Homo sapiens: one gene and its partner. The protein of the gene in region 2 purifies or fractionates together with the protein of the main gene of each other region. This does not show direct contact. Each region holds a gene or a part of one and is shown on either strand. Other genes may lie near its edges.

Region 1 (3,824 bases), on a different chromosome or scaffold from region 2:
CTCCTCTTCTTTCTCTTCATTCTCTTTCATTCTGTCTCCTCCTTCTCTTTTCTCTCCCCTCCATCCTCTCTCCCCTACTGCCCTCCCTCTCCTTCTTCTTCTCCTTTTACCAGGAAGTCTTTCCCATATTCCCAAGGGAGTTCTTTGCTCTAACTCTGCTCCCTCTGCATGGCATTGATTGCATTGGGTTATATGCTGTTCGTGACCTTGTTAATCTCCAAAGACTGAGACACAATGGCAAAGGCAATGTCTTACTGCCTCAGAATATGGCACACAGTAAGTGCTCAATAGTGGTTTGATGGACGGATGGATGAGGAAAGAGATCATTCCCTTCACTGCCATCTAATTTTATTTCCTCTTACCATTCTCTGCTGATATTGTCTCTTTGATCCCTGGCTTGTCATTCTCTAGCCTCACTTCTCAAGTTTCTTGTCGGGCATTCCAACTAATCGTTATATTTTCATGTCAAATTCAACATAGAGTATTCTCATATTTTTCTGGGCAACTCCTCAATTCATTCCCTGATTCACCTGTGAATTCACTTCGGTTGAATCAGTCTGTCATTGACCTGAGGCACTTTGCAACATTTGACTTCCATGCTTCTGTCATACAGCTTCTTCTACCTGAAAGGTCATTTCTTTTTTTTTTAATCAACTTCTCTAAAAATCTTATCTAATCTTCAAGGCCTAACTCAGTTGCCCTATCTTGAGGTCTTCCTTGATCATTCATCACTGCTGGGCAGGATGTCCCTCCTCTTGTCTCCTATGGAATATATCTGTACAACCCATATGAAACATTTTACTTAATACCTTATATTTTAGTTACCTCTAAATCAGTCTTATTTGCCTTCATATATAGCCCTTTGAGGGAATAAACAAGGCTGTGAGTTAGGAAACCTCACCTTACCTTGATGGCATCAACACTTGATAGACTGAATATCTTTATCTAAGTTTGATGGTGTTTCTGTCTCATGATCCTCACTCTAATTCAGCAACAATAATAGTAACAGTGTCTTGTGCTTGTGCTATGTGCTTTTATTTTGAGAATTATTCTTTATTTGCCTCCAATTCAAACTATGATTTCTTCCAGTTTTTTAAAAAAGTAACACCCTTGACCATTCAGGACACTGCAGGCTCCCAGGAGTAGGGAGAGAGTGTGGCAAGTGTAACGGAGCAGCTCCAGAGAGGAGGTGGGCATTGGACCTCTTGAAGAAAGGCCCTGAAATCTAAATGACCCATCTGAGAATTAACAAACTCCATTTTGATCCACATCAATGCTGACATTGGAAAAGACAGGGCCAGTTGTGGCCAATGAGCTTCTAGTGAATGGCCATTCACAGCATCACAGCAGTGCATGGTAATGGGTTTCCAGGGCCATCCGAATTAGTGCAAAGGATCCTGGAATTTAATTCCCCCTCCAGGTGGGGTGAGGGAAGACTGCTCTGAGATAAACAATGAGATTGCAGTTCAACCAACAAGGTAAAGTTCAAGGATAGAGTGCAGGTCTAATAGAGACCTGGAAAGCAGGATATTTAAATTGGTAGCTGAGTATGGCTGGGACAGAGTGTGTAGACACGAGTTCAGTGGACAAAGTTTTTGTGATTTATTCATGTTTTTGTTCTAGGTTCCTCTTTTACATTATCAGCTCTCTCAGAGAGCTCAATTCCTCTTTTGCCTTCAACCATTACTCTCTCTGGGCAACTATATTTTTTGGTCTCAGAGAGACCATTTTATTTGGAGTCTGAGTGAGCAACTGCTACCTTTCATTTTGCTGAAATTATGCTTGCCCCTACCAGGTAGAGAAACAGTGATACCAGGCCAGTGCTTGTCTGGACCTCGCTGTTGCTCCTGTTGCTATGTGCATGGTTTCAAATCAGGTTATCTGTTGCCCATTCCCCAGCTCCCTGCAGGGCTTGGAGATTGCCTCCCTTCCTCTACTCCCTTCTTAGGTTCTGCTCCACAGTACTTGCCAGAGCATCATAATAGAACCAGTAATTGTCACCAACTCCTGAAAATGGGGGTTAGGGGAACGGGGCTGTTGAGGGGGGAGTCATCACCTCTCTGTGTCCCCCATCTTCAAATTTCATGAAACATCATACATACCTTTTAGTTTTATAGTTGTAAAGAATTTTTAAATTCTAAGTCAGAGAAATTATAGAGTTTCAATAGCTAAAATCCCTGGTATTTGTTGGAGTTTAGATAGAGGTAAACCTGATCTTATTTAGCTACATTTGTCTCTGAAACATTTTTAAATTCTAGGTAACTGCTGCCTTCAAAAAATAAAACTCTTTCTAATGGAGATATTTCTTCCCTCCCCTCCTCTCCTATCCCCTTCCCACCTCCCACTTTTCTTCCCTCTTCCCTCCTTCTCCTACCTTCCCTTCCTTTCCCCCCATCCCTTTTTTTCCTTCCCTGACCCCACCCCACCTTTCCTGTAGAAAGACTACAGGAAACATTTAAATTAGTACTGCAATCTGCAACTGAAGTTTTTCTCCGCATATATCTTGATTCTAATAGGAAATTTGACAAAGTTTACCAAGATAGTTTGACTCAACAATTCCTTTAAAAATCCTTTAAAATGAGAAGATATAGCTTTTTAAAAATTCATTTTATTTGATGTAGTAATTCTACTTATTGGGATCTATCTTAAGAAAATAATCAAGAAGGCAAAACAAAATTATCATATATAAATATTCCTTAGATTATTAATTATAATAGCAAAAATCTAGAAATCACCTAAATACACAACAGTAGAGAAATGACTACGTAAATAATAATAGCATATTCACATAATAGAATAGTATGAAGCCATTAAGATTATGTTTCTGAAAACTTTTGAATAACACAGGAAGGTGTTATTAAAGTCTTTCATTAATACCAATGGAAAAATATAGGCTACAAAATTATATAGAATCTAACCTCAATTATGTAGTATAATAGTCATAAAAGAGAAATTCAAAGGTTAGCAGGTGTTGCTTCTTGTCGGTTAGGTAAGGGGGATTGGATTTTTGTGCTCTTCATATTTCCCAAGTCTTCTGCAGTGAACAGGTTTAATTTTACAATCAGGAAAGCCACATTGCTGTTATTTTTAAAGACTTGATTCAAAGGTTGTCTGTTAAAAATTCAAGGAATATACAAACAGCTGATTTAATATTTCCTCTAAGTCTGCATTTCCATGCTGGAGAAAAGGGAGATAACTTACAGGGAGAGGACTTAAAGCCCCCTTTCTTTCCAATACATTCTTGGGAGAGAATGGATGACCACACATGCAGGAAATATATTCATTGGAAGGCCTGAGGGGGTGAGTTTATAGTGTGCTCACCAGGCTGAGCAAGAAAAAATAGAAGGAGCACTTGGCAGACATGGAGACAGAGACCTGAAGTCTCATCCCTAATTCTACCTTGAACTCTAATCTTAGGAATGCCATTGGTAACCTCCCTGGGCTGTATCTGCATGTTGGAAACATGGTGACATTCCCTGTCGCTGTCATTTCCTAAAGCTCTGGCATCCGAGACCTTTTGGTCTCACTGAGCAGGTATCACAGAGGGTCGGGGCTCTGCGGTGGTTTACCTAGAGAAAAACAACAACGGAGCTGAAATCTGGCTCCCTGCCCAATCCACTGTGCGGACTCTGACTCTCATCCCCACCCCTAACCTTCTAAGTTCCAGAGGAAAGATCAGGGCTGCAGAACATGTTTCTGTGTAAGCCAAAAGAGAGAGCTGTCTGCTGGTGCTCCATCAGCTACTGAATGCTCCAGCTCACACTGACTGACAGGTCTTCCTAGAGCTTGTGCAAAGCCCCAGTGCAGAAAAAGCAAACAAACAA
Region 2 (4,401 bases):
CTTAGGAATTATAGCACCTTCCTTTGTCACAAGTAACGCTGCCCGAAGCGTGCATCTAAAATGTTAGCTCCTCACGCATGTCATGGAAGAAAATGCAGGAGCCAAAAAGAAAAAAGAACAAGTTTTTTTCCTCCAATTAAAACTGTTCTACTTTTCACTCATCTGTTAGCATTTCAGAGCCTGGAGTCGGGTTTTGAAGGGCCTCTGCTGCTGTCTCAGGCTTAAGGCACTTCCATCGATTCTGTATTCCAGGTCATTGATCAGACATGGTGGGGTGCGTGTCTTGGTGCTACGTGATAAATTTAGGTCCAGAGCTGTAAATTTTAATAAATCATCTATAAAACAGCAGTAGCCAGTGAAACAAGGAATGACTGTTTTTGTGCCCTGTGTGTCCATAAATGCATATACAGAATAATTTATTCCTAGCCTACACACAAAAAATAACGATCATTGTGAATATCTGTTGTTTTTCCAGACATATGATACAGAAAATGATAGCTTAACCATCACCTAAATTTTATTTATTTTTATTTATTTTATTTTTATTTTTTTGAGACGGAGTCTCACTCTTTTGCCCAGGCTGGAGTGCAGTGGCGCGATCTCAGCTCACTGCAAACTCTGCCTCCCAGGTTCACGCCATTCTCCTGCCTCAGCCTCCCGAGTAGCTGGGACTACAGGCGCCCGCCACTGCGCCCGGCTAATTTTTTTTATTTTTAGTAGAGATGGGGTTTCACCATGTTAGCCAGGATGGTCTCGAACCCCTGACCTCAGACGATCTGCCCGCCTTGGCCTCCCGAAGTGCTCGGATTGGGCGTGAGCCACTGCGCCCAGCTGATTTTGTTTTTTAAAGTGTTATATTTTCATTCATTCAGAGTTGAATTTTGTAATCTGAATTATGGAGTCATATCAAATGGAACCAACCAGTTAAACCAGTAACTTATAGTGTATTTCACTTTCTTCAATTGTATTTTTCCTTTAGTGAACAGGTGGAAGCATTCTGGATAAGGGAGTAGTGAGCCCTTTAAATGCCTTACCTTTCTCTAAAATAGGGTATGGTCTGTATTTGCTTCAGTACTCCAGAGCAATGCCATTTTATTGTATTTAAGTCAATCCATTTTACAAAACAGAAGTAATTATTCTGTCACAAAAGGAAAGACGCCACTTTTAGTACGTACATATATTCCATATTAAGAACAAAATTAAGTAACTAAACTTAAGTTTCTTAGAGTTGCCTGGATAGTGATTAAATGTTCTTCTCATCTTAAAATATTGTTTGTCATCTTGAAATTTATGCAAGTAAGTACAAAGTTATATAAATATACTGAGTTTTCATTATTGCTTTTCTGAAATTAACCCCAGCCCTAGCCTGAATAATTATCCTTTTGACTATGCAAAAGGTATATTTGTATGTCCTCCAAAACACACATTGTGCTTTGCATATAGTAGGGCCTCAATACATGTACAATGTAAGGATGGATATAATGATGTTTGTAATTTCCCACGGTAATGTCCCATGTATAGTCTCTTGATTTAGAAAATCTCCTTTAATATTTTCTCAGAGTACTGCATTTAAAACAATGGTGAAAACTATTGGGACTTTAAATGTAAAATTTATACAAGGATTATTTATAGTCCCTTATGTGTGCATGTGCAAGGAGTACTATGCTTGAAGTCAGAAAAAACGCATTTGATTTCTGGCCACAAGTACCATCCATGTGACCATGAGACAGTCACTTAACCCCTTTGAACCTCATTTTTGTCTCATTGAAAGAGTGTCCCCATCTAGCATTCAAATTCTTTGGAATCTAGACTGATACCTGAAAATCAAGCCATACATTGTTTTCATGAATTATCTCATTTACTCTACATAATAGTCTATGGAGGCAATGAGGACAGATAAATTTCTCCCTAGTTAATATGATAAATGGGCTTGGAGATGTCAGTGGACTTGCCCAAGGATGACACACACAGTTTGTGACAGAGCTGCTCTGTTCTCTGCTACCATGCTGTCCCTCATTTTCAGCTAGGATGCATTTTTGTTACTATCTAATCATGTCACTTTTAACATTTTGTAAAAACTTACTGAGTTATTTTATTATAATTCTTTGAAGACTGATAACTTCCAATAACTGTACTTAGAAAATATCCCCATTTAATCATTATTTGAACCTGTTTTAATGTATTCATCTCATACCTTAAAAAATTCTAGTAGCGTTTTCCATTTTGTTGTAAAATATTCTTAAATAGGAAAGGACAGTTGACATCCTTCAGTCTTTTCTATGTAGTAAGGAAAATAATGTGTATTGTAGAAAGCTTAGGTAATCTTATAGTAGAAAAAAGTTCTACCAATTTTTGTAAGAAACTTGATTTGAGGTGGTCGTATATTTTTCAGACGTGCTCATAGATCTGTAGTATATTCCCGGTGGGTAATAGTTTATAGTTTTGCGACTTTTTTAAGGAACCAGTCATTGTAAGTCTGTATTTTTGTGTAAAGTATGAAACTTCCTTTGAAAAGGGGTTTATTTTTATTTTTTCTCTTATAGGAACAATTGGCTTCTTTGCATGCTTTTGGTTTGTTACCAAAATATACAGTGTGGTGAAGGTTGACTGAAGAAGTCCAGTGTGTCCAGTTAAAACAGAAATAAATTAAACTCTTCATCAACAAAGACCTGTTTTTGTGACTGCCTTGAGTTTTATCAGAATTATTGGCCTAGTAATCCTTCAGAAACACCGTAATTCTAAATAAACCTCTTCCCATACACCTTTCCCCCATAAGATGTGTCTTCAACACTATAAAGCATTTGTATTGTGATTTGATTAAGTATATATTTGGTTGTTCTCAATGAAGAGCAAATTTAAATATTATGTGCATTTGTAAATACAGTAGCTATAAAATTTTCCATACTTCTAATGGCAGAATAGAGGAGGCCATATTAAATAATACTGATGAAAGGCAGGACACTGCATTGTAAATAGGATTTTCTAGGCTCGGTAGGCAGAAAGAATTATTTTTCTTTGAAGGAAATAACTTTTTATCATGGTAATTTTGAAGGATGATTCCTATGATGTGTTCACCAGGGGAATGTGGCTTTTAAAGAAAATCTTCTATTGGTTGTAACTGTTCATATCTTCTTACTTTTCTGTGTTGACTTCATTATTCCCATGGTATTGGCCTTTTAAACTATGTGCCTCTGAGTCTTTCAATTTATAAATTTGTTATCTTAATAAATATTATAAAAATGTCTTCATTGCATCATTACCTATTATATATTCAAGGAGGTTCTGTAAATACAGATCTATTTACCAAGGTGTTTTGAAATGATTTATACTATTTTATCAGATTTTACTGGATTTTGTTAATGTAACACTTTCTGAGTTTTGATCTGAATGGAATTTCACTGTGTAAGGCATTGTCTAAAATGTTCACTGTGAGGCAGTAGAGGAGGTTGAAGTCATGCATATCTAGACAGATGAATTATCTGCAAGTACTTAAGGTGGAGCCTTACTACATTGTCATTAAGGAGTTTCTATTTTTGACTTGTTTTTCAAAATACAGTGTTTTAAGTCAGGTTTTATTACCTGGACATTAGCAATCACTAGCAAGTCTTCATCTTTATGATTTCATTGTTTTAATTTAGATTTCACAAACAGTTTTACTTCTAAGAGTTAAGAAATGCACTGTCTTTCACATTCATCTGACTAATTGAAATCCATTTATGTAGAATATAGGAATGGGGGGTGATTCTGAAGTATCGGTCTGCTTGTATCTGTGAGCATATTCATTTGTATTTTAGGGTCTCTCTGCTTGCTGCTTAGGAGAGCAAATCAGATACTGTCATTAAACTTACAACTAAAATTACTAGCTGTCACTTATATGATATTGCTGGGTTCTTACTGAATAATTTTTTTTTTTTTTTGAGACAGAGTTTCCTTCTTGTTGCCCAGGCTGGAGTGCAATGGCGAGATCTCGGCTCACCACAACCTCCGCCTCCCAGGTTCAAGCAATTCTCCTGCCTCAGCCTCCTGAGTAGCTGGGATTACAGGCATGTGCCACCACGCCCGGCTAATTTTGTATTTTTAGTAGAGACGGCATTTCTCCATGTTGGTCACACTGGTTTCAAACTCCTGACCTCAGGTGATCTGCCCGCCTCGGCCTCCCAAAGTGCTGGGATTACAGGTGTGAGCCACTGCGCCCAGCCTTACTGAATAATTTTATGTCACTGTCCTTTTTTAAAAAAACGGACCTGTTGGTTTTGAAGAGTAAAGGAGGAGCTCTGTTCATTTTTAACATGGAATATTTAAGATAGAAGAGTTTCTTTCAGTTTTATGTATCTCTTGTATTTATTTTTTATGGGTAGAGTTGTCCCTTAGTATTTATGGGAGATTGGTTCCAGAACCCTT

Evidence for each region.
Region 1: the proteins of TM9SF2 (region 2) and TACR1 purify together in Homo sapiens (co-immunoprecipitation; one large-scale study listed by IntAct). This does not show direct contact.

What each region holds. Positions count from the first base shown.
Region 1 is NC_000002.12:75,193,016-75,196,839, forward strand, and holds part of TACR1 (substance-P receptor), read right to left. Parts: intron 1-3,824. UniProt on the Homo sapiens protein: This is a receptor for the tachykinin neuropeptide substance P. It is probably associated with G proteins that activate a phosphatidylinositol-calcium second messenger system.
Region 2 is NC_000013.11:99,560,148-99,564,548, forward strand, and holds the end of TM9SF2 (transmembrane 9 superfamily member 2 precursor), read left to right. Parts: intron 1-2,543; coding exon 2,544-2,611; 3' UTR 2,612-3,901; downstream 3,902-4,401. UniProt on the Homo sapiens protein: In the intracellular compartments, may function as a channel or small molecule transporter.